7 linked regions of the Homo sapiens genome follow. The protein of the gene in region 4 purifies or fractionates together with the protein of the main gene of each other region. This does not show direct contact. Each region holds a gene or a part of one and is shown on either strand. Other genes may lie near its edges.

Region 1 (3,500 bases), on a different chromosome or scaffold from region 4:
GAGCACAGCTTCCCCGCATAACTGCTGGAGGGTGGGTCATCGAGTGCTGCTGTGTGTGTGGGCCACGGGTTCAGGTGCACCTGCCTTTGTGGGGAGAGCACAGCTTCCCTGCATAACTGCTGGAGGGTGGGTCATCGAGTGCTGTGTGTGTGGGCCACAGGTTCAGGTGCACCTGCCTTTGTGGGGAGAGCACAGCTTCCCTGCATAACTGCTGGAGGGCGGATCATTGAGTGCTGCTCTGTGTGTATGCCTCAGGTTCAGGTGCACCTGCCTTTGTGGGAAGAGCACAGCTTCCCTGCATAACTGCTGGAGGGCGGGATCTTCCCAAGGGGAAGTTGGGAGGTGCTCAGGCGGAGCAAATGGATTTAACTTCTGGGCTGGGAGAATGTGGTACCCCCGTGGAAGTCTCCCTGAGGAAGGAAAGGAAGGAGCTGGAGGGAGGGTGTGTGTGTCTTAGGAGGGGACGCACTTCAGGTGAGAGCGGGCATGGCACTAGGAGGAGCCCCATGAGCCCAGAGTGGTGGCACGTAGAGGCCTAAGGGACCATGCCAGCAGACCCCACCGCCCGTGCTCCACCAGGAGCCTGACATTGTTCTCTGAGATCAGGGGGCTGTCTCTGTGTACTGCCCAGGACTGTGGCATTTTTGTGCATAAAAAAAAAAAAAAACTGTGTGTCTAACACAGACGGGGTATGAGGAGAGCCACTGGTCTCTCCTGACCTTAAAAATATTTTTTTAGTTCATTTTTAGTGAGTATGGAAATTACTGAAGGTACAAATCACTCTGAAGATAGGTTCTTGTGTGCGAAGGTCATCAGTGAATCTTCATTCTCAGAGTTGATAAATGGTTGTGAGCGCTCAAGGGTATCAGATTCAACGATGAGTCTGAGGATAGTACAGCTTTCCTATTCAGTTTCAAGGAAAATCATATAAAGCCCAGACCGTAATTTGTCAGGAATGTTTGAAGTGTGGTGTGATGGATGTCTTCACCGTGCTTTAGGATGATTACTGAGGGAGAACGGAAGGAAGGGGTCTGGTACTTGCACCTTTCAGTAGAATTAGTGTGAATGCCACAGCGACCAAGCTATGTTCAGGTGTCTGCAGGCAGTGGTGGCCTTGATGATGGATTTTCTGAAATGGGAATTCGTGAAGTCCTCTAACAAAACTAAGTGCGAACTTCTCAACTTAGCTGGTGACTGCATCCTTGAAAAATTCTGTGTGTAAAATGATACAGAACCATTTCTTGGTTATCTGTTAAATAAGAGTGCATGTCCAGCCGCGATGACTGTGGACGGCCTTGGAGGTCTGGGAGGCCACGAAGGACTCCCACACACAGCAGGGTGTGAACCCACCAGGCAGTGCTTTGGCCCCCTCCCAGGAGTCATGGCAGCCGACACGTCACCTGGAGTGTCTAGAAAACCACTACCTTAGAGCCCCCACTGCTTTTCCTGGTGCCTCCAGGTATAGATCACAAACTCAGTGTCCCAGAAAGATTTTCCTTTTACTTTAACTCCTGTTGTTGTTTGTTTTCAGGCACGTGGACTCCCTTTAATCCAGTGACTGTCAGGTCGATCATATGTAAGTATCGGCAGACGGACCAACCTGGGCTGCTTTGTATCCGACCCGCTTGGGTACCCGCTTGTGTTTCCTTTGTCTGTGGGTCCGTATCACTTTGCTCCCTTCTGGAATTCCACTTAGATGAGCGTCGGCCCTTTCATCCCTCTCCCTCCGTCTCTGTACCTTTTCACATCTCTCCGTGTATGTTTGCTCTATTCTTGATTCTGTTTATTTTTAATGTACGGTGTAACCTGTCCTTTCAGTTTCTAATTCTAAAGATGACATATATTTAAAATTTCTAAATTATTAGTTACTTTCACATCTTATCTGGGTGTTTTTGATAGACATTGCTTATTTATTTTTGTGATTCCATTCTTTATTCAAATATTTCATATGATAGTCTTCAGTTTTAAGAACATGCTTTTTTGAAAAGCGCTAGATATTTGTGACATGGAGCTCCTTGACTGTGTTTGAAGTCCTTGGGAGGGTGGTCTACAGCCAGATATTTTTCCTGCTCAAGCCCACACAGAGTGACCAACTTCCTTGATGCTTCTGTAATTTTTGTTTGTTTTGTGGGTTCATGTGTAGCCTTAATGTGAGGGTCTGCATCATTTCTTTGGGTCCAGGGTCTCCCCAGCTGTATAGGCAGCTGGGTTTTTGTTTGTTTCTTTTAAGAGACAGGGTGTCCCTGTGCTGCCCAGGCCTGGTCTGGAATTCCTGGGCTCACGCAATCCTCCTGCCTCAGCCTCCCAAAAAGTGGGGATTACAGGTGTGCACCCCCATGCCCAGACGGTAGCCGGGGTGTGAGCTGAGGCTCCAGGCGCAGGCAGGTGTTCAGGAGAGTCGTGCTGTGTCTCCATCCCCCGTAGCCAGGTGGGAGCTGCAGCTCCAGGGGCAGGCAGGCCTGGGAGGCAGGTGTTCAGGAGAGTCATGTTTCCATCCCTACCCGACTTGATTTCTGGAAGGTTCCCTTTGCTGGGAGGTGCAGCCCCCTTCAGACCTCTTTAATATGGAATCCCAGGTTCAGTTCTGCCTCACAGGGACCATGGCATTGTGTCTCGAGGTTTCCCAGAGCGGCCTGGGGCTCATTCCCTCGCCTCCCATCCATGCACGTGTTTTAGTCTTGTGAGGATTCCCTGAGTTCCTTGCGGAGCCTGTGTGTGGTGAGGTGTCTGAGTCCTAGTGTGGGTGTAGCTGGGGGCTTTTCCAGATGACTGTGCCCTGCTGGTCGTGCATATGTTGCTACGTCACACTGATGGAGGGAGAGAAAACTTGGAAGTGTAGTAGTGGCAGGGCTCAGCCTTTAGTGCTAGAAAAGGTGTTGATACATGGGGAGCTACCTCCCCACCGGAGAGGAATGGCCTGGGAGCCACTCCTCTGCGGAGCCCTTACCCTGGGGTGCAGCTCACCCAGCATCCTTCCCTGCTGGTGTGTGGTGCGCAGTGGGTCCTGCACGCAACAGCATCGTCCACACACACTGCACACATCGTGGAATGGTCGTATGAAAAACAGCCCCTGGTCCACACACCACACACGTCGTGGAACGGTGCACGTCGTGGAACGGTTGTGTGAAAAACAGCCACTGGTTGCACACAGGGTTGTGGACTGTTGGGAAGAAACATCGATGCTGTTTCTCACATGATTTTTCATCCTGTGGATTTTCATTTAATTGTAACATATTTCTGATCAAACCAGGAGTAGTCTTATTGCAGTCCTGTATTAACCTCTGTTCTTGAAAAGAGACCACGTGATTTATCATTTTCTCTGCAGCAGTAATTCACACTGAATTTTTCTATGTTTTTTAGCCATATTGCAACTACATATAAAGGTAGTTATAGATTCTTTTGTATTTGGACCTGGAGTTAGACTGAAAGCAAATAGGACATAGGCGAGGGTCTGTTTCTAATTAAAGCAGGTTTTCCTGACAGGGCTGTTCCAAGACTCC
Region 2 (3,500 bases), on a different chromosome or scaffold from region 4:
GGCACACAGCTGTGCCCATGTCCCCAGACTTGAGAGGTGTGGAAAAAGCACAGAACATTCTAGCAGGAGTGGGAACAGATCTCTCTGGCAGATGAGCGACTTGTGTTTCCAGGAAGGATTACTCACACCCCAAAAGATGGATGAGGTGACTGATGCTCCCTACACTTTCTGGCAGCGGAGGGCGTAGAATAAGCAGCCTGGAAGACCCATCAGTGCCACATAACTGAGGCAAAGCTACACCTCCTGGCTCCTGCTGGGGACTGTTTAGAAAGTTCTGTGCTCCTCTTAGGATAACCACTTAATAAAGACTGAAGCAGGGCTTTTCGTGTGTCAGGGCAAATGTTGCTTCTGGGACTCAGGTGTGAGGCCACAGGGACTTGGAAGTAACTATTGGGACCTGGGCCCAGGTGGCAGACAGCCACCCTGTCCTTTGACCTTGCTTGATGACTCGTCTTGAAGTTCCTGTGCTTTCAAATGCACGGTGCAATTCCTGCTGCCAGAACCCCTCTAACTCAAAAACGGAGAGGCAGCATGCATGTGTGTCATTTTTCCGGGCATGGTAGAGAAATCTCAGACCATGCAAAAGGAACAGAACTTTGGAGCTGGTGCATGGTGCTATAAGAAGCTCCCTCTTCCTGGATGTGTGCGAGCAGAGCCGGGTGGTCTCTGGGCGGGGCAGGGATGTTGAGGGGTGCAATTGCATGTTGGGGTGGGGAGGGGAGGTGGATGCCAGGCCCTTTAAGCTTCCTTTCAAAACTGGGACCTAGATGATTTGGAGTAGGGGGATGGCCTTGCTTTGCTATTTGTTGCTGACATTTAGAAGTGGTATCTAAGCCAGACTTGAGTCATCACTCTACAGGTTGTGTGGACAGGGGGCTCAGAGAGGCCTCCCCTGAGGCCTCTCGTGGACCCCGCTGGGCTGTCTGCCCGCTCCTCCATCTGGGATCTCCACCTGTGTTTGCAGAGGTGCTGCCATTGCTGTCTGCTGGGGAGGGCGGCCCAGGCCCAGGGCCAGAGCTGCGAGTACAGCCTCATGGTTGGCTACCAGTGTGGACAGGTCTTCCAGGCATGCTGTGTCAAGAGCCAGGAGACCGGAGATTTGGATGTCGGGGGCCTCCAAGAAACGGGTAACTTTCCCCCTTCCTTCCCTAATGAGCAGTGTATTAAGGTTCTCCGGGATGTGTATATAGAGCGAGAGTGGAGAGAGAGAGATTTTAAGGACTTGGCTCATGTGATCGTGGGGCTGGCAAGTCCAAAATCTGCAGGGCAGGCCTTCAGGCTGGAGCCCCAGGGAAGGAGGGGCATTGCAGCTGGAGTTCAAAGGCAGTGTGCTGGCAGAACGCCGCCTTTCCCGGGGAGGCCAGTCTTTTTTCTCTGAAGGCCTTCTGCTGATTGAGTGAGGCCCACCCATGGTATGAAGATGATCTGCTTTTCTCAGCATCAACAGACTTACATGTTAATCTCTTTTTTTTTTTGAGACAGAATCTCTCTCTGTCACCCAGGCTGGAGTGCAGTGCAGTGGTGTGATCTTGGCTCACGGCAACCTCCGCCTCCCGGGTTCAAGTGATTCTTGTGCCTCAGCCTCCCGAGTAGCTGGGATTACAGGTGTACACTACCACACCTGGCTAATTTTTGTATTTTTAGTAGGGATGGGGTTTCACCATGTTGGCCAGGCTGATCTGGAACTCCTGACCTCAGGTAATCCACCTGCCTCAGCTTCCCAAAGTGCTAGGATTACAGGTGTGAGCCATCGTGCCTGGCCAATATTAATCTCTAAAATATAGCTTCACAGCAACATCCAGGCTAGTGTTTGACTAAATATTTGAGTACCATACCCCAGCCCAATTGACACTTACGATGAACCATTACAGGTAACACGTGCATCCGTGTCACCATTGCCTTAACTCAGCACGGACTAACTCCGGTTGTCGGAGCCATTCATGTTTGTGACCTTATCTGAAAGCCGCTGTCCTGGAGTGACGCTGAGTGCTTGGAGTCTGGGATCGGACAAATCTGTGCTCCCATCCGGGTCCTAATGTGTACCTTGGTCCCCTCATCTGGGAAGTGGGGATAGTTGCAGTCCTACTTCATCAGGTGCTGGGAGGATGGAGTGCGAGATTGGGTGTCAAGGGTTGGGTAGAGCACCTGGCCCCATAAATGTCTGCCCTCACCATCTGCCCTTGTCCCTTCAGCTGCCCGGGGCAGCATGGGTGGCTGGCCTTGCTCCCACTTCTTGGGTGAGGGTCTGATGCTGAAGATCGCACAGCCGACACGTGGAGGAGGGAGAGCCTGGCCTTCCACCTCCTGGCCAGTGCCCTCTCCATCTGGAGCTGACGATGTATGGGCGAGCAGCTGGGGGCCATCGCTGGCTAATAGCTGGCTATGCTCTGTCAAATCATAGACACTTACTCAGCAAAGGGGCATGTGACCCCAAGAGCAGCTTCAAGAGCGCTCTCAGCTGTGTGCCCCCCCGTTCTGTGTCCTCGCCCTGCATTTCTGTGTGGTTCAGTTACAGGGTTCAGGAGACTTTGTGGCTGTCCAGTAGCCTCTTACACTTAGGCCACGGTTTCTTGTGCTGTAACAGAATTAACCTGGAAGAAGGCAGGACTCCGCCTGGGCCAAGCTTGCTGTGTAGTTTTCGGCCTGTTCCCTCCTCTCTCTGAGCTTTGCCCCCACTCTCTTAAAAAATAAAAGAGGTGTGAGCTGGGCACGGTGGCTCACGCCTGTAATCCCAGCACTTTGGGAGGCCGAGGCAGGCGGATCACCTGAGGTCAGGAGTTCGAGACTAGCCTGGCCAACATGGGGAAACCCTGTCTCTACTAAAAATACAAAAATTAGCTGGGCGTGGTGGCGGGCGCCTGTAATCCCAGCTACTTGGGAGGCTGAGGCAGGGAGAATCGCTTGAACCTGGGAGGCGGAGGTTGCAGTGAGCCGAGATGGCGCCATTGCATTCCAGCCTGGGTGACAGAACGAGACTCAGTCTCAAAAAAAATAATAAAATAAATAAAGAGGTGGGGAGGTGCCGGAAGGGGCGAAAGGGAAGAACCCTCAGACCTGTAGTCTCTAAGTCAAGGTAATGGCTGTAGGGTCCTGGGTGACACGGAACCTTTCACTTCTTGTTCTTAGGTTTTCAAGTCCAGGCTGTAGGGCCCCTGGTCACAGAGGACCCGGGTCACCCGGGACTCATCTTTCACTTATTGTTCTTAGTTTTTCAAGTCCAGGGCCCCATGGATGCCACTGAGATGATTTCAGATGTTACAGTCATCAAGAGGGATTGGGGCCGCATTCTGCCTCATTCCTTGGCTTTTGAAATCAGAGACGACATTTTCACTTTAAACAAACCCAAACCATTCCTGCTGGTGGAGGATTTCTCCTGCATCTCGGGGGTGGATTTTCACTGATTTATGTCTGCAGCGTGAGCAGTCTCTGGGCTTTTCTGCAGCTCCAGATGTTAGATGTTTTATCTCTCCGTCTTTTATCTGCTTCAGTCCTTGCCCCAG
Region 3 (2,683 bases), on a different chromosome or scaffold from region 4:
CCTGGGTAACAAACAATGTGAACTCAAATCTTTAAACAAAAAAAAAAAAAAAAAAAAAGGAGAGAGAGAGAGAGAACGAAAGAAAGAGAGAAAGGGAAAGAGAAAGGGAAAAGGAAGAGGAGATTGGGCCTTCCTAGAAAAAGGAATATTTTGCCTTCCAATGAATCACCAGAAAAAAGTAGAGCTTTAATCTTTGACCTTGAATCACAATAGTATCATAACAAAAGAACAAATCTTGATGAAGTAATTTTACTTTCCTAAAGAAAACTGTCATTAGTAAACCTTCAATTACTCACAATTCCTAGTCTTGAGCTCCCAGTAACTCAAGCTTGTGAAGGATTAGGTTCTAATGCAATGGGAGCCTACCACCAAATATATTTATAAAATAAGCAGTGCAATTCAAAACTTCCTCTACAAATGTATAATCTTTGCTTATAAAACCCACATTGATGATCCCAAAGCTTTAATAAAAAACAATAAAGAAAGAAAAGGAAAACCACTTATTGGTACTAAAGCCTTTACTGTAATAAACCAAATATATTTACAATTTATACAAATGTTTAACCTTCAACAAAAATACAAAAAAACATTTCACAAGATGCAAAACCAGGAAACAAGTTCATTGGAGACACCACTGCTCTACAAAGGACGGAAAGTGAGGTGAACTGCAAGGAACAGAAAGGTAATCTCACACTTGGGCAAGGCGTGATCCCCAGATCACCCAGAAAGAAAGAATGGGCTGTCATGTGAGTCGGCAGATTCCGTTCCTCAATCCTACAACCCATGGCCCCTCTGTCCGCTTGGCCTTGGTGCTCCATTTGGTCTATGTAGACAGGTGACTTTCTGCTGATGGACTTGTCGCCTCCTCTTTGTAGACTCAAAGTAGTTTTCTGTCAAGGTTTGGAAACAGGTGTTTGTAATTTTTTTTCTCTTTTAAAGTTACAACTTTTCTATTTCTATAAATTCGAAACATTTTGGCCCAATTCAACTATAAACGTTAAACCACATAATGTTTTCAGTAGATGACTTCATAGACTGTAGCCTTCTTGTCCCCCGAGCCAGTGACTATGTACTTATCATCCACAGAGATGTCACAGCTAAGCACTGACGAGGACTCTTTGGACTGGAAGAGAAAACAATGGACATGTGTTTAATGTGGAACAACGGTACTCAGAGGCCCTGCTCCCTCGGAGGCACCTTCACTCCTGGCTTCAGAGGCGACACTGTGGTCAAACTGTGGATCTAGGTGAGGAGTACTTACTCACCTGGAATATGCTGGCTCCATAGGGGGTCCGCCAAGCATTGAGGAGGTTATCTTTTCCAGTACTCACAAACCATTTACCTAGAATTAGCAAAGGAATATCTAGTTTTCACAAGGTTAAAATTCCTACTATACAATTAGCAACTTGGACTTAATCAAACTAAGAACATTTTTAATATATGAACTATCATGCCCTAAGGACTGGTCCATGATATGAACAGAGGTTTTAATCTGGGCTCCTCAGTGATTTATCAGTGATCTTGGGTATAATCTAAGAGGTATCAGCCTCCTTAGTCACTGGATACAGGACTAGTAGCATCATATCCAACACACGGTAACCCTCAAATATAGAAATCAATGAAGAATGTGTTCTATTTTAGTCAGTCTCCTCATGATAAAATGGGATTAAAGATTCCCATCTTTAATGGGAATTAAAGGATTAAACATCCAACTTAAGTAAAATGCCAGTCACATCATATAGCATGAAGAAAAATGCTCAATAAGTGATAGGCACTCATCCACCCATCCATCCATCCATCCATCCATCCATCCATCCATCTATGCATACTGTGAACAGATATCTGCCCATCTGCAGCACACAAGAAGGGTCACCACATGAACTTCTTCCCTCTTCATCCTCACTGTAGAGTAGAGTGTAACTAAGTGTCTGCGTATACCTAAATATCGACTTCTCTAACCCTGGATTCCTCATCATGGCCAGCTCATAATGACTTCCACTGCCCCTGCTCCATTCTTCAATAAATTCCCGCCCACCCCTCTTCAGAGTAGAAACTCATTGTCGTCTCCCAACCCCTCCAAAACAAACTTGTGTCCAAACCGTGTATTAGGCAATCACATTGCCTGCTGACTTTTCTCAAATTAGCAAAACAGACTGAAACAGACATTGCTGTGCTCTGAAGGGCATATTAAAACAATAGAATTATTGCATCCAGCTGCTCGGAGAACATTTTTTCCAGATTATGATCTCTACCATATTTTTTTAAGAAGCATTTTCCATTTGGGCCATCAACGGCCTCCAGTTTCCTTTCGGCTGAACTCACCACAGTAAGCAAATTTCAGGGACAGCACGCAGCTCTCATGCAGGTGCAGCTGGTACTTGTCAGGCTTGTTCACGTGCAGCACCTCCACATTGCTGCTCTCCATGCCCACTGCCAGCCACTCCCCGGTGGGGCAGTACCCCAGGGAGAAGATCTACAAGGAGCAAGACAGGCTCACTCATTATTCCGCCTGATACACTTAGGAAGGGAAGACGCAATGTGAAAAGTGGGGAAATAGCAAGAATGGGGGGAAGTAATCAGCCAAGTCCAGACTGTGGGGAGGTCCACAGGGCAAGTGATCTAACGCAGATGAACCAAGTGTCAAAACCTTTAGGAAACTGGAAACATTTGAACCCCTCTGTCT
Region 4 (3,500 bases):
GATTCTACTGATGTGAACTATCCAGAATAGGCAAGTTTATAAAGGCATAAAGTAGATTTGTGGCTTCAAGAAGATGGGAAATGACTGTTATTGGGCATGGGTTTCTTTTTGGAATTATGAAATTATTCTAACATTAGATTGTGGTGATAGCTTCACAACTCTGAATATACTAAAAATCACTCAACTGTACACTTTGAATGGGTGAATTTTATGGTATGTGAATTATGTCTCAACAAAGTCATTACAGAGAAAAAGAAAGCTGGAGTGGTTATACTAATATCTCACAAGTAGATTTCAGAGCAAAGAAAATTACCAGAGATAAGAAGGGCTATCACTTAAAAGTAAGAGACAATTTCTTAACAAGATACAGCAATCCTAAGCATGACTGATCCTAACAATGGAGCTTCAAAATACATGAAGGAAAAACTGGCAAAATTGAAAAAAATAAAGAGAAATCCACAGTTACAGTTGAGGACTTTTACACTCCATTCTTAGTAATCTACAAGAACAAGCAGAGGAAAAATCAGCAATGATATTGGCACAACTAGACAGCATCATCAACCAACACTGACATTTGTAGGACACCCACCCAACAGCATTAGAATAACCATTATTTTCAACGTACGGAACATTCACCCAGACAGACCACATTCTGGCTCATAAAACAAATCTTAAAATATTACAAAAAAATTAAAATAATACAGCTTGTTCTCCGACCATAATGTAATGAGCTAGGAATTACTAACCGCAAGATAACAGGAAATTCTCTAACCACATAAAAATAAAACAACACATTTCTACGTAATCTAAATCATAACCTGATAAATTAAATTGGGCCTAAAGCTGCCTCTGTAAATAGCAGACTGCAACTTGATTTGAGGTTGTATTCTTGTAACAAGTAGCTGAGTCTCAGCCAATGATGGTAGTGGAGCTTCAGCCAATCACGGGCTGTCAACTGATCAGACCATGTCCGTTGAAGGCAAATGCCTCATCACACCATGACCAAATAAAGCAAATACCAGGCTGGATCCAATCAACTGATTTATGTACGTCACTTCTTTCCTCTGTTTATGAATACTGCCTGCCCATGTTGCTCGGTGGAGCTCTCTGAAACTCTTCTGGTTCTGAGGGCTGCCTGATTCATGAATCGTTTTTCGCTCAGATAAACTCTGCTGAATTTGCCTAAAGTTTTTCTTTTAAGAGTTTCACATGAGAAGTCAGATCTTGAAGCAAACTTCCAGTGATCCCAGGAGCACTGAGTGACCAAGTTAAGGTACCCAGCATGCCCAGTGTACTCACTGCTCTTTCGCAGCAACTGGGGTCATGGGTGAGATTTTTGAATCTAAGCTTCATGAACTTCTGATTTGAGCTGAGTTTGAGCATTTTTGATCTACACTGGGTTTCAAAGTCATGCCAACAACAGGACTGGGCCCAGTAGGGAGGCCTCAGGTATTTGACTGGGTCAGACATAAACTCAACTCAGTTAGTAGGTAGGAAAGGTTAATAAAAGACATAGAATCATGGGTTTATCTGGTCAAAGGTTGCTAGAGCTTCGCCCTCTGGAATTCTAGCCAACTTCATGTATAAAAACCAGAGACCCAGAACCTGTGCTTTTCGAGACGAATGGGAGAACCTTAGCAAAAGTAACTTAGAATGGCTACAGTGGGAAAATTCCTTACGAAAGGCAAACAGGTTTATGTCTTTACAGTTGTAAAGGCTACAGGGCCCAAGAGGATCCCAAAATAAAGAACCCTATGCCCCAAGATGTCTGCCTTTATGGTAAACACTCATGCAACTGGAAAATACATTGTCCACTTTTATATTAGCCATCTAATGGATCCACTACCTTTTGTCTGAACTATTTCTCCACCAGAGAAAGCCCCCAAAGGCTTTAATCCCAAAACAGTAACCCATCAATCTCTCAGGGAGGAAAAACAAATTCTGTGGTGGGGGTTTCAAATCAAACCTGGAAAGTTCCTAATTGACACTTGGACCATTTTCAGAAAAAAAATTTGTAAGAATTAGTTCTGTTATCTGTATTTCATCCTGCTTCTTCCATGGGGATCTCTCAATTGACTGAAACCCCTCTTCTCAAACTCCTGCTAACAATATGCTCTACCAACTGTATACATCTTTTTTTTTATTATACTTTAAGTTTTAGGGTACATGTGCACAACATGCAGGTTTGTTACATATATACATCTCTTTCTTATCATCATGATCCTGACTATGCTCCAAAACTCTTGAAAAACAAAAAAATAGAAAGCAAAACAAAAACTGTGTTGTCATTTATTCTTGAAAACAAAGAAATGAACAAAAAGGATGAACCAATCTCTAACTTTAAGAAAAGATTATAATATTCATGCAGAGTTCGGGCACATAAAATGCTGTATAGACTAAGCAACCCTAATCCAAAAGTCCAAAATCTGAAATGCTCAAAAATCCAAAACTTTCAGCACCAACATGATGTCACAAGTGAAAGATGATGAGGACACTGTTAAAACTGCAAAGTGCCTATAGATGACATGGTGAAAATATGTGATGGGTTTACTGAAGGACTCTAAGAGCATTCATTCATCACAGAATAAGAAATTGTGTCAGTCTGTAAAATCAACAGAGACTTCTAAGACAAAAACCATTGTTAATGAGACAGCGGACTCCAGAGGAAACATTCTGAAAAGTCATCCATCAGAATGCTTCCTCATTTGTAGAGAAAACACTTGCTGGTCACTTGGCTACTTCTGATATTTCTTCTCACTTAAAATAATAAAATTCAGTGAATGATAACCTTGTAATCAAAATACAGCATTGTAGGTAAAGAATGAAAGCCTGCCATTGCTTATTGGTGGCTTTCCGACACAGGCATTCTGGAGATACTACTGTGCTGCTTAGTTACCCTGAACGCATTCTCTTTTCACTGTACTAATGATACATCCTATTTTTTACTGTTAAGCACTTATTTGTGAGTAATGTAAGAAAATGATTACTTATCAGTAGCATAATGAATTTAGAGTCAGGAATGATGGTGACGTCAAATAACCACAGATTGTCCACATGGGTGATTGAGATACTGATACCTTTGCTTTCTGATGGTTCAACGTACGTAAACGTTTCATACACAACATTATCAAAAATATTGTATAAAATTATCTTCAGGCTATATGTTTAAAACATAATGGAACATGAATTTCATGTTTACTTGGGTCCCATTCTCAAGATACCTCATTATGTACATGCATGCCTTGTTTTACTGTGCTTTGCTATACTGTGATTCACAGATACTCCATTTTTTTAAACAAATTGAGGGTTTGTGGCATCCTTGTATCAAGGAGTCTATCAGTGCCATTTTGCAGAACAGCAACTTCTCAGTTTGTCTCTTTGTCAAATTTTGGTAATTCTCACAATATTTCAGACTTTTTCATAACAATCTGTTATGGTGATCTATGATCAGTGATCTTTGATGTTACTATTATAATTGTTTTGGGACCCCATGAACCATG
Region 5 (2,527 bases), on a different chromosome or scaffold from region 4:
TGGTGAAACCTCGTCTCTACTAAAAATACAAAAATTAGCCAGGCATGGTAGCAGGCACCTGTAATCCTAGCTACTCGGGAAGCTGAGGCAGGAGAATCGACTGAACTCAGGAGGAGAAGGTTGCAGTGAGCCGAGGTCACGCCACTGCATTCCAGCCTGGACAACAGAACAAGACTCTGTCTCAAAAAAAAAGCAAAGTCATGAGGTGGGCACAGTGGTGTGCATGCACTGGTAATCCCAGCTACTCAGGAAACTAAGGCAGGAGGATCACTTGAGCCCAGGAGTTCAAGGCCAGCTTGGGCAACTTAGCAAGGCCCTTTCTCTTAATAGAAAGAAAAAGCTAAAACACATCAAAAGTATACTGCTTTGGTTCAAATTCAGATAATACATCAAATTTGCCTTGTTTTAAAATAATTAATAACTTGACTAATATAAGTGAGTGACACAGGCTAAATAATATTGATTTAATTATTTCTGATTAGCATTCATTTTTGTTTAGAGATTCTGCATATTTAATATGACAGCCTATTCTGCATTCATGAGCTCAACTGGGTAATATATCATTGCTGAAATTCTACAGCCTCTTTGTTATAGAAATATTTTCATTACTTTTACCATTTTGCCTTATTATTAGCTGTTTCCTATCTGCCATAGTCAACTGTTTTCAATTAAGTGCTGTAAATCTAGAACAGCAAACAAAAAGCCAGCCAATACTTTGTGCCTGCCCTCAGCTTACTAAAGTTGCTATTTTATTTCCAAGAAGAAAAATCTTTCTTGATCTCAACCCACCAAAAACAAACAAATCTTGCAATTACTTGAAACACTGTATACCTTGCATTTTACCATCTGTAGAGAAATTGCTTCTGCCTTGCAGAGTATATCTTCCACATCAATTTTCATGGACAATTCATTGATATGCTAAAAAGTATCAACAAAATAAAATGATATCGAAACTGAATACACTATTATATTCTATTATATAAACAATTTATTACCAGTTATATTTCACTGCAGATAAAATCCTTAAAATAAAAACATTCATATACTACAAATACGTAAGAAATTCAATATATCTTTCTTTAGATTATTTCAAGTTTTAAAGCTAAAGACTAGCTAATAAGCTTATGGAACATTAAATCCAGCAGCTATTCCAAGTCTGATATCTCAAAGTTATAATCAAAAGACAATTAATTTTTGAAAAACTAAACTACATAAAAGAGCACTTGTTGAATTTCCTTTTCTTCCTAATTAGCCAGGTAAAAATAACTGGCCAATATGTATTTGAACTGTCATTCTCAGATAGTCATTCCTAGCACTGTTATTGACACAATTTAAGTTACTCAAGAGATTTAATAATGTTCCAAGGAAACGTTCTGTATATCAGGACCACCAAATAGAAAAGCCAGAACACTAAAATCTGAATTAAAGGAATAACTACCTTAAGTATTTCATTGAAGCCATAATGCTTTTCCATTATTTGCTGCTTTTCTGATTCCAGAATAGCACAACAGAGAAGAAGATGGAAATTTGTACATGGTAGTTCGGTCCACATTACCTATAGAAGGCAGAAGAACTATTTTGCAAATTGTATCAATTCTAAAACATTTTCCTCACAGATACAATTCTGAACACTGAATGACTTCTATGCAAAGTAGATGTTGCCTGTTTAGGGTAGCCCAAGGTTTTTCTAGCTAGGAAATGAGGGGAAGGAGAGTCTTACCTTCAGCTACAAAGTAACTATCATCGAGTTTATATGAATATGATATATTCTAAATGTGGCTCTTTAAGGTAACTATAGTAAGTAAATTACTGAGCCTAACCAGTATGATAAATGTTATTAATGCAGGAGCTACAGACACAAGGTTAAGGTGTAAGGGTTAGATGTATTTTCAATATTTTTCTGAAGTATCAGTTTCTCACTTCGATCTGAGAAAAGACTAAAGCTAAGTCCTGGAAATAAAAAAAGGTTCAGTTACACAGTACATGGAATCAGAAACACCCAGAGGTAGCTCTACATTCTAAATACGTAAAACCCTTGTATCACATTTTATCCCTGATTGTGACAATAACTGAATTAACTGCCCCAAATTTATAACCAAACATAGAAAACGCTTGATCAACAGCTCAGCTGTTCCTAAATACAGATAATATCCTCGAATTTAGGGTCTTAATTTCCCCCTGCTTCATGTACCTAATAATATATTTTCCACAAAGATAAAAACACCCACACAAACCATACCATGAGATCATACCCGAAATGTGTTTACTTCTTTCAAAAGGAGTAAATCAAGTTGAATAATTTTCAAACTAAACCCAATTGTTGAAAGTTTAATTACAATGCAATTAACCTCAAAGGTTTCATTAAAAGTTTGAATTTATTTAGTAAACACAGATTGAGGAGTTATTCTAGCTATGTGGTAATAATATTCTTAATTCATCCTTTAAAACCCATTTATGCCTGAGGATGCAATTTTTTGAATTTTTCAATCAGACCTTGGTGATGACCTTGAGCAGTAGGATATAAACA
Region 6 (4,101 bases), on a different chromosome or scaffold from region 4:
TAATTATTTCTATTTCGTCTCTCCTTATTTCTTATATTCTGGCCAGTTCTAATTTTATACTTTATATATTTTTAAATCACTAGGCATCTTGATCATACTCCTGCAGTTTTAAAGTGTGTGTCAGACTTTCCTTGGCTGGTGTAAGTTCCTGTACCAATTGCTCATTTTTAGCCTGCCTTTCTTAGTGTGGTGTTTCCTTGGGTAATTTGGAACCTGGCCTTTCTAGCTTATTTCAAGGTGAGGATATTGTGTCTCTGCATTTCTGCCTTTCTCTGCCATCTTGTTGTCACTGTCCTCTGTCTAGCAGTGTTTTGTAGCCTCTGCTCCCATCCCGGGTCCCAGGCTTCTGCTCTGCAGTGATGCAGAGCATGTCACAGATAAAGTCATCCTTTCCAAGGACGGCTTGTCTCAGCTTCTGCCCTTGAGGCTGTGTTGATGTCCTCTTGCCTTCCTATGCCCACAGTGCTCCACTAAGTTATACGAAGTTACAGCCCTGGGATGTGTCAAGGAGGGTTTCTCAGCCTTCTTTCTGGAGTCAGGGAAGCCCCTCCCATCACTCCCAGGAGCCGGACCTAGGCCCTCTCTGCCTGCCTTGGGACTTGGAGCTGACAGGCCCCTGCCTCTGCCCCATCACCAGCCTGTGCTTCTCCTCCATTCCTTGTTTTATGTGAGTGTGTGTGCGTTTGTGCATGTATATATGTACACACATGCATACACACACACACACCTGTCTTGGTCTTCTGTCTGTCTGACCTATTGCTGCTCTGTGTGTGGAGCAGAGAGGGTCGTTACTGCACACCTTGCTCAGGACAGTGGACACCGTCTTTAAATGCACACGGGATCGTGTTCACACAGGAGGGTCCCTTTTTTTCCATGATGAATCTGAGGCCAAGTAACCTGCCCAGAGATGCAGGAAGCTCAGCTGAGCCCCAAGCCCACGGCCCTCGGACTCCAACCCCAAACCCCCTTGACAGTGTGCACGTCAGCAAGTGTGGGATGGCTGGGGGGCATCTGTTACGGCTGCACACGTCCCCAGGAGGCCTGCACACCCTTCACTCCCTTCAGTTTCCCTTCAGGTGAAATCTGCAAATCTGCTCCTCTGGACCTGGTCCTGTCCAAGTGATCCTCTGGGATTAACAAGCTGTTATTCACCAGCCTCCAACAATAATGGCAGGTTATCTGCTCCATTGCAGAACTGGCAGTGGTTTACATCCAGGAAGGGATTGGTCAGTCTCCTGTGCCAGGTCCCTGGGGGACCCTGAGCCCAGCGGTATAAAGGGCGGCTGTGGGAGGACTGGTACAGCCTCTCCCAGCCCCAGCAAGCGACCTGTCAGGCGGCCGTGGACTCAGACTCCGGAGATGAAGCCCCTGCTCCTGGCCGTCAGCCTTGGCCTCATTGCTGCCCTGCAGGCCCACCACCTCCTGGCCTCAGACGAGGAGATTCAGGATGTGAGGCCCGGATGGGAAGGCTGGGCTGGAGGGGGCAAGGGGCGAGGCTGAGACTGGATGGAGACCCCATGCCTCCTCCATCCAAGGAGACCCTCGTTTTTGGGTTGGGCATTCAAGCCCTGCCCTGAGGGAATGGTGGGATGGGGCAGCAGGGGTCTGGGCTGGCAGGGTAGGTGGCGCAGGGGTGCAGAGTGGGCAGGGCTGGGAGGGTGGGGGTCTGGCTGACTTCACTTCTTCCCTGGGGATGAGGGCTCCTGTGGTCCTGGCTGGCTTGTGGGGGCTGGAGCCACCTTCAAGTGGGCCTGGCGAGGGTGCTGGGTGTTTTCTGGGTGGGTTAGATTGGGGAACGTTCCCCGTTTCCAGCCCTCGGGGTGCGGTAGAGTCTAGGGGCTGCAGGCCAGGGAAGGGGGAGGCTCTGGAGCAGTCGGCCTGAGCCTGATAGAGAGGGGCCTTCTCCAGGTGTCAGGGACGTGGTATCTGAAGGCCATGACGGTGGACAGGGAGTTCCCTGAGATGAATCTGGAATCGGTGACACCCATGACCCTCACGACCCTGGAAGGGGGCAACCTGGAAGCCAAGGTCACCATGCTGTGAGTGTCTGCCAGCCGGCCGGGCAGCCTGCAACCTGGTCTAGGGCCTTCCCTTTCCCCACCCAGGAGAGCTCTGGTGCTGGGGAGGTGGGCAGACCTGCTGGGAGGCCTCTCTCGGCCCCTCCTGCAATGCTTGAGGGCAAACTGTGCCACTGAGGTGCCTCGGCTGGAGGGGCCCTGAGGGGGCAGAGGCCCCGGATCAGACCCTGTGGGCTACCAGTGGCAGCCCTGGGTACCGCCCACTTCCTCCTCCGACTAGGGAATGTCTGGTGACGTGCAGGCCCCTTTGGGAAAAGGTGTTTACCCCCGACCAGAGTCAGAGCCAGTCCTGGCAGTAAATTTCTGCTTTGGAGAAGTGCAGGGATGGGGCTTGCAGAATGACCAAGAGGGGGCATAGGAGAAGACACCATGGAGAAGACCCCCTTGAAATCCCTGTGTAGCGCTCACCTGTGCGGCTCTCACCTGGGCTGCTTCCACCCGCGTGGCTCACATCTGTGACTTCCCACCTGTGTGATTTCACCCGCATGGCTCCCTCCTGAGTGGCATGCAGTGCCTGTGCTCCGGTCCTGGGGGCTGAATCTCAGGAAGTCACTGACCCTGGCAATGACCCCGATTTTTTTTTCCCCCAAAGCCCCTCACTGAACCTTTCCCTCTCTGGGCCAGATGATGATGGATATGGGGCTTGTGCCTGAATGTCTCTAAAAGGAAGAATGCAGCTGGCGGGATGAGGCTCAGGCCCACGCCACAGACGCTGCCTGCAAACCAGGCAGCCTGGGTGCCTCTGGCAGGAAATGTGTTGGGGGCGGGGGGTTTGGGAAGGCAGCCACCAGGAGGAGCGGTGCAGAGCTCCTGGCCATCTCGGGAGACCCCGGGAACTGCCGCATGGGACCCGGAGGGGCCGCTGGTGCCTGGGTCTGAGATGCAGAGAAGCACCCTCCTCCATGGGCCTGTGGCAGACTCGGGGCCACATTTGCAGGGCATTGCAGCATGGTTGCTCCAGGGCCGGGGGAGGCACAGGCCAGGGCCGCTTTGCCAGGGGGCTTCTGTTTTCCAGGATAAGTGGCCGGTGCCAGGAGGTGAAGGCCGTCCTGGAGAAAACTGACGAGCCGGGAAAATACACGGCCGGTGAGTCCCGGGGCCTGAGCCAGAGCCTGAGCTTGAACACACGCTGGATGTGCGGGGGCAGCCAGTGCCTTTTTGGGGTGGCCTTTTGGCCTGGGAAGCCTTTTGCTGCCTTCTGACTCCACTAAAAGCCCACTCTCTTCTCCCACTGGTCAATTTGCATTAGAGACTTGAACACCTGACCCCAAACACCAGGTGTGGCAGGTTTGTCCCGGGGCGGACCCTCTGGGCTTGCCCTGTAGCCCTGGCTGTGGCTCTGGCAGGGCCAGGAGCAGAGTCGTATTTGGCTGCGGGGGGCTGTACCCCAACTCCCACCTCCGCAGACCTCATACCCGGAGGAACCCCCCGTGACTCACTGGTTTGGGATGTGGCCGCCTCTTGGGTACATCAGGTTCCTGGGAAGTGGGGGTCCCATGGCCTGGGGCTCAGGCCTGGTGGGGAACCTGGGTCAGGGAGCTCTGGGAGGCTGGGAGGGTGCAGGAGCTGCGGGGCTTGCTGGGCCTGGCAACGCACGCTGTCCCGGGATCCTCTCTGAAGTCCCTGGTGGCTAATTCAGGAATGTGCTGCTGTCTTTCTGCAGACGGGGGCAAGCACGTGGCATACATCATCAGGTCGCACGTGAAGGACCACTACATCTTTTACTGTGAGGGCGAGCTGCACGGGAAGCCGGTCCGAGGGGTGAAGCTCGTGGGTGGGTCCCGCACCCTCACCCTGCAACCCATGCCTCCACCTGCCCTCCCTCCTCCCTCGGCCTCCTGCACCCTCTTCCCCATGGGAGAAGCCACTGGGACCCAGGAACCCACTGCAGTTTTCTTAGGATGAGTTTTCCTGATAAAGGCCTCAATTCCCACCCCTGGAGTTCAGGATTTGGGATGCCCCGGCCTCGGTATCTGCAGCAGAGGCAGGAAGGAGCCACGGCTGCAGGCACAGGGGTTCAAAG
Region 7 (2,751 bases), about 18 Mb from region 4:
GGCAGTTTGTGAGCAGGACCTTTCCTTTGGAGCAGTCAGGGCCTCTCCTGGGCCTTTCCTGGCACTTCTGCTGCTCTCCTGTGGCTGGAGGCCCAGCCTGGGCCTGCCAGCATCTCTTACCGCATGCAGGAGTGCTGTGGGGATGCATCAGGAGAGTCACAGATCTCCCTTTGTAACCAGCATTGGCAAATTACTGAAGCAGTTATGGTTCATAGTAGCAATTGTATATGTTACCTAGGAGATGGTGTCAATGGCCGGGGGCCTCATCGCCACGTAAGGGTGTCTTGCCAGGTGACTTGCAAGGGTGACTGCCAGGTTGAAGCCAAGGCATTCACTGAACGGAGGCAGAAGCAGAAACAGTCCCAGGCAATTCTTGGAAAACTGGCCCATTCTTACTGCGGGACATAGCACCTTACTGTTGGGTCCAAAACCCCATGTGTCCTGCCAAAAAAGGCAGCCCAGCACAGATGTGTTCAGGGCCAGAGACACCATTTGCCTACTGAATGACTTGAGCAATTTGGTGCATCTCACCGAGCCTTCACCTTCTCTGTTAAATGGAACATCTCCTCCCTCCTTTGCAAGATTGTCATTAGGATTTGTGAGGTATTGGCAATAACGGGCCCTCCCATCCTTCCCATTGCTGTTGTTATTACTGTATTCATAGCTTTGTGTGCTTCATAGGTACCCTCTAGGGTCCTCTACGTACAACATACAACAGCTTCGCAATAGCCAGTGTTGGAGGCTCCAAGAACGAGGGTCCTGTGGCTATGTGGAGAGTAAGCAGCAGAGCCAGGACTGCCACTCAGAGCTAGTTCACCCTTGCTGCCGCCATTCGAACCCAGAGCTCCTGGCCCAAACAGTCTGGAATGTTCTGTACTGTGCTTCTAGGACAGTGACTTGCCAGGCCAACTCTGGGCTGGGGCTGTCTTGGCTCTGTCAGGAGGGCCTCTCCTCAGGCTTTCTCTCAGGACTCGTGGCTTTGTTCCCGCTGGCCCAGGCGATAACCTCAGCATTTTTACTGGAGCCTGGGGCTAGGTTTTTAAACAAACTCAATGTAACTTGTGTACTCTGCAATCCAAGCCGACACCCTCATAAACTATCCCTGCAGGTTATTAAATGATTAAAGATCTCATTTATGAACTGTCCATTTTCGAGCAGCCTGAGACAGACGCTTTCACGATTGCTCTGACCTGCTGCTCTCTCTAGTGAGAGAGAGAGAGCAGAGTGTCCCTGACATTCTGGAAGCTGAGCCACAGATTCAGTGCATCTCACTGAAGGCGAGGCACTTAGCTTAAGCTGTCTCCTATGACCAGGCTCCAGGATTCAATATTTACATCTCCCTGGAGTTTCAGAAGGTCATCTGGGGACATTTTTCTTGGCAAGACCTGGTGGTTTCCTCAGTCCCAGCTGTGAGTGAGAAGCCGTTTTTACCTTGAAGCTGTGTTCAGGGGGGAGTTCTGTTGTGAGTCCCTCCCAGCTCCTTTTCTTGGTTGTCCTTGTACCATCCAGTAACTTCAGAGGGCCCCTTTTTGCCCAGCTGCATTTAGCTTTGGATTTCAGACAGTGAAGCCCCTCCTGCATAAGCTAAGATTGTTTCAGTGGAGCTCACACCCTGGCAGTTCACCCATGAGCCCAGCAGATACGTTTCATGTGGCCTATGCAGTGTTTGTGAAATGTTTGAACAAGTTGCTGACATCTAGACATCAGGACATTTCTTTCTTTCTTTCTTTTTTTGAGATGGAGTTTCTCTCTTGTTGCCCAGGCTGGAGTGCAACGGCCCAATCTCAGCTCACTGCAACCTCCGCCTCCCGGGTTCAAGCAATTCTCCTGCCTCAGCCTCCTGAGTAGCTGGGATTACAGGCATGTGCCACCACACCCACCTAATTTTTGTCTTTTTAGTAGAGATGGGGTTTCGCCATGTTGGTCAGGCTGGTCTTAAACTCCAGACCTCAGGTGATCCACCTGCCTCCGCCTCCCAAAGTGCTGGGATTACAGGCGTGAGCCATTGTGTCCTGCCAAAATCAGGACGTTTCGTACAAGGATCTGAGTTCTGAGCCTGTCTTGAGAAAAGGGAAGACTGCAGACAACACCTTGCAGCAGTGGTGGCCGCGGGTGGAGGGGCTGCCTCCCCAGGGTGTTTGCTGGCCAAGCATTTCACCCTCACCTGGCTCATCGCAGCCGCTCTGTCCTGCTGGGGCTTTCCAAGGCCTTTCCCATCTGTGGGCAGCCAATGTGCTGTCCCCCAAGCCCAACCGCGATCATCAGAGACTGGGCTCCCCCTGCAGCTCCTGCCCGCAGGGTCCCAGCCTGGAGAGCTGACAGGCGAGGCTTGATGTGGCCACCTCAGTAAACCTCTGGCTCTCCTCCCTCCTGGAAGGCTGAAGCTGGGACTCAGTCTTTCCCAGCTCCTGTGCCTCTACACTGGGTGTGCTTTTATGGCTTTAATTTCAACAAGGGCTTCTTGATATCTTGTTTACGAAGCTGCCAAAGTGAAAAATTCCTGTATTATATGCGGCTCGAAGTCCTGCAGTTATCTCAGCTCCACAACACACAACATCATTATCCTGGCTGCCCCTTATCACTCAGTGCTGGTACGCCTGCAGGATCCTGGTCCACCGTGTTACAGCATCCCCGCCGCCAGCCTGCCTCCCCTCCAACTCTACCAAGATCTTCAAACTGCAACAAGCGTCAGCCTCTTCTTGATAGATTAGATATCTCCCGGTGATGTTATGAGGCCTGGTAAATCTTTAA

The links.
Region 1: the proteins of PLSCR4 (region 4) and PDCD6 purify together in Homo sapiens (pull-down; one study listed by IntAct). This does not show direct contact.
Region 2: the proteins of PLSCR4 (region 4) and FBLN1 purify together in Homo sapiens (affinity purification with mass spectrometry; 3 studies listed by BioGRID and IntAct, with this or other methods). This does not show direct contact.
Region 3: the proteins of PLSCR4 (region 4) and TLE1 purify together in Homo sapiens (affinity purification with mass spectrometry, with the first as the bait; one large-scale study listed by BioGRID). This does not show direct contact.
Region 5: the proteins of PLSCR4 (region 4) and TBC1D15 purify together in Homo sapiens (affinity purification with mass spectrometry; one large-scale study listed by BioGRID and IntAct). This does not show direct contact.
Region 6: the proteins of PLSCR4 (region 4) and LCN1 purify together in Homo sapiens (affinity purification with mass spectrometry; one large-scale study listed by BioGRID and IntAct). This does not show direct contact.
Region 7: the proteins of PLSCR4 (region 4) and RUVBL1 purify together in Homo sapiens (co-immunoprecipitation; one large-scale study listed by IntAct). This does not show direct contact.

Annotation. Positions count from the first base shown.
Region 1 is NC_000005.10:302,646-306,145, forward strand, and holds part of PDCD6 (programmed cell death protein 6), read left to right. Parts: intron 1-1,531; coding exon 1,532-1,576; intron 1,577-3,500. UniProt on the Homo sapiens protein: Calcium sensor that plays a key role in processes such as endoplasmic reticulum (ER)-Golgi vesicular transport, endosomal biogenesis or membrane repair.
Region 2 is NC_000022.11:45,526,883-45,530,382, forward strand, and holds part of FBLN1 (fibulin-1 isoform D precursor), read left to right. Parts: intron 1-964; coding exon 965-1,127; intron 1,128-3,500. UniProt on the Homo sapiens protein: Incorporated into fibronectin-containing matrix fibers. May play a role in cell adhesion and migration along protein fibers within the extracellular matrix (ECM).
Region 3 is NC_000009.12:81,583,183-81,585,865, forward strand, and holds the end of TLE1 (transducin-like enhancer protein 1), read right to left. Parts: intron 2,474-2,683; coding exon 2,323-2,473; intron 1,343-2,322; coding exon 1,266-1,342; intron 1,124-1,265; coding exon 1,016-1,123; 3' UTR 501-1,015; downstream 1-500. UniProt on the Homo sapiens protein: Transcriptional corepressor that binds to a number of transcription factors. Inhibits NF-kappa-B-regulated gene expression. Inhibits the transcriptional activation mediated by FOXA2, and by CTNNB1 and TCF family members in Wnt signaling.
Region 4 is NC_000003.12:146,241,106-146,244,605, forward strand, and holds part of PLSCR4 (phospholipid scramblase 4), read right to left. Parts: intron 1-3,500. UniProt on the Homo sapiens protein: Catalyzes metal ion-induced ATP-independent rapid bidirectional and non-specific movement of phospholipids (lipid scrambling or lipid flip-flop) between the inner and outer leaflet of the plasma membrane and participates in the redistribution of phospholipids between membrane leaflets.
Region 5 is NC_000012.12:71,919,759-71,922,285, reverse strand, and holds part of TBC1D15 (TBC1 domain family member 15), read right to left. Parts: intron 1,574-2,527; exon of another isoform or gene 1,556-1,573; coding exon 1,439-1,555; intron 919-1,438; coding exon 832-918; intron 1-831. UniProt on the Homo sapiens protein: Acts as a GTPase activating protein for RAB7A. Does not act on RAB4, RAB5 or RAB6.
Region 6 is NC_000009.12:135,520,139-135,524,239, forward strand, and holds the start of LCN1 (lipocalin-1 isoform 1 precursor), read left to right. Parts: upstream 1-1,301; 5' UTR 1,302-1,359; coding exon 1,360-1,449; intron 1,450-1,908; coding exon 1,909-2,039; intron 2,040-3,093; coding exon 3,094-3,164; intron 3,165-3,741; coding exon 3,742-3,852; exon of another isoform or gene 3,853-4,101. UniProt on the Homo sapiens protein: Could play a role in taste reception. Could be necessary for the concentration and delivery of sapid molecules in the gustatory system.
Region 7 is NC_000003.12:128,083,062-128,085,812, reverse strand, and holds part of RUVBL1 (ruvB-like 1), read left to right. Parts: intron 1-2,751. UniProt on the Homo sapiens protein: Possesses single-stranded DNA-stimulated ATPase and ATP-dependent DNA helicase (3' to 5') activity; hexamerization is thought to be critical for ATP hydrolysis and adjacent subunits in the ring-like structure contribute to the ATPase activity.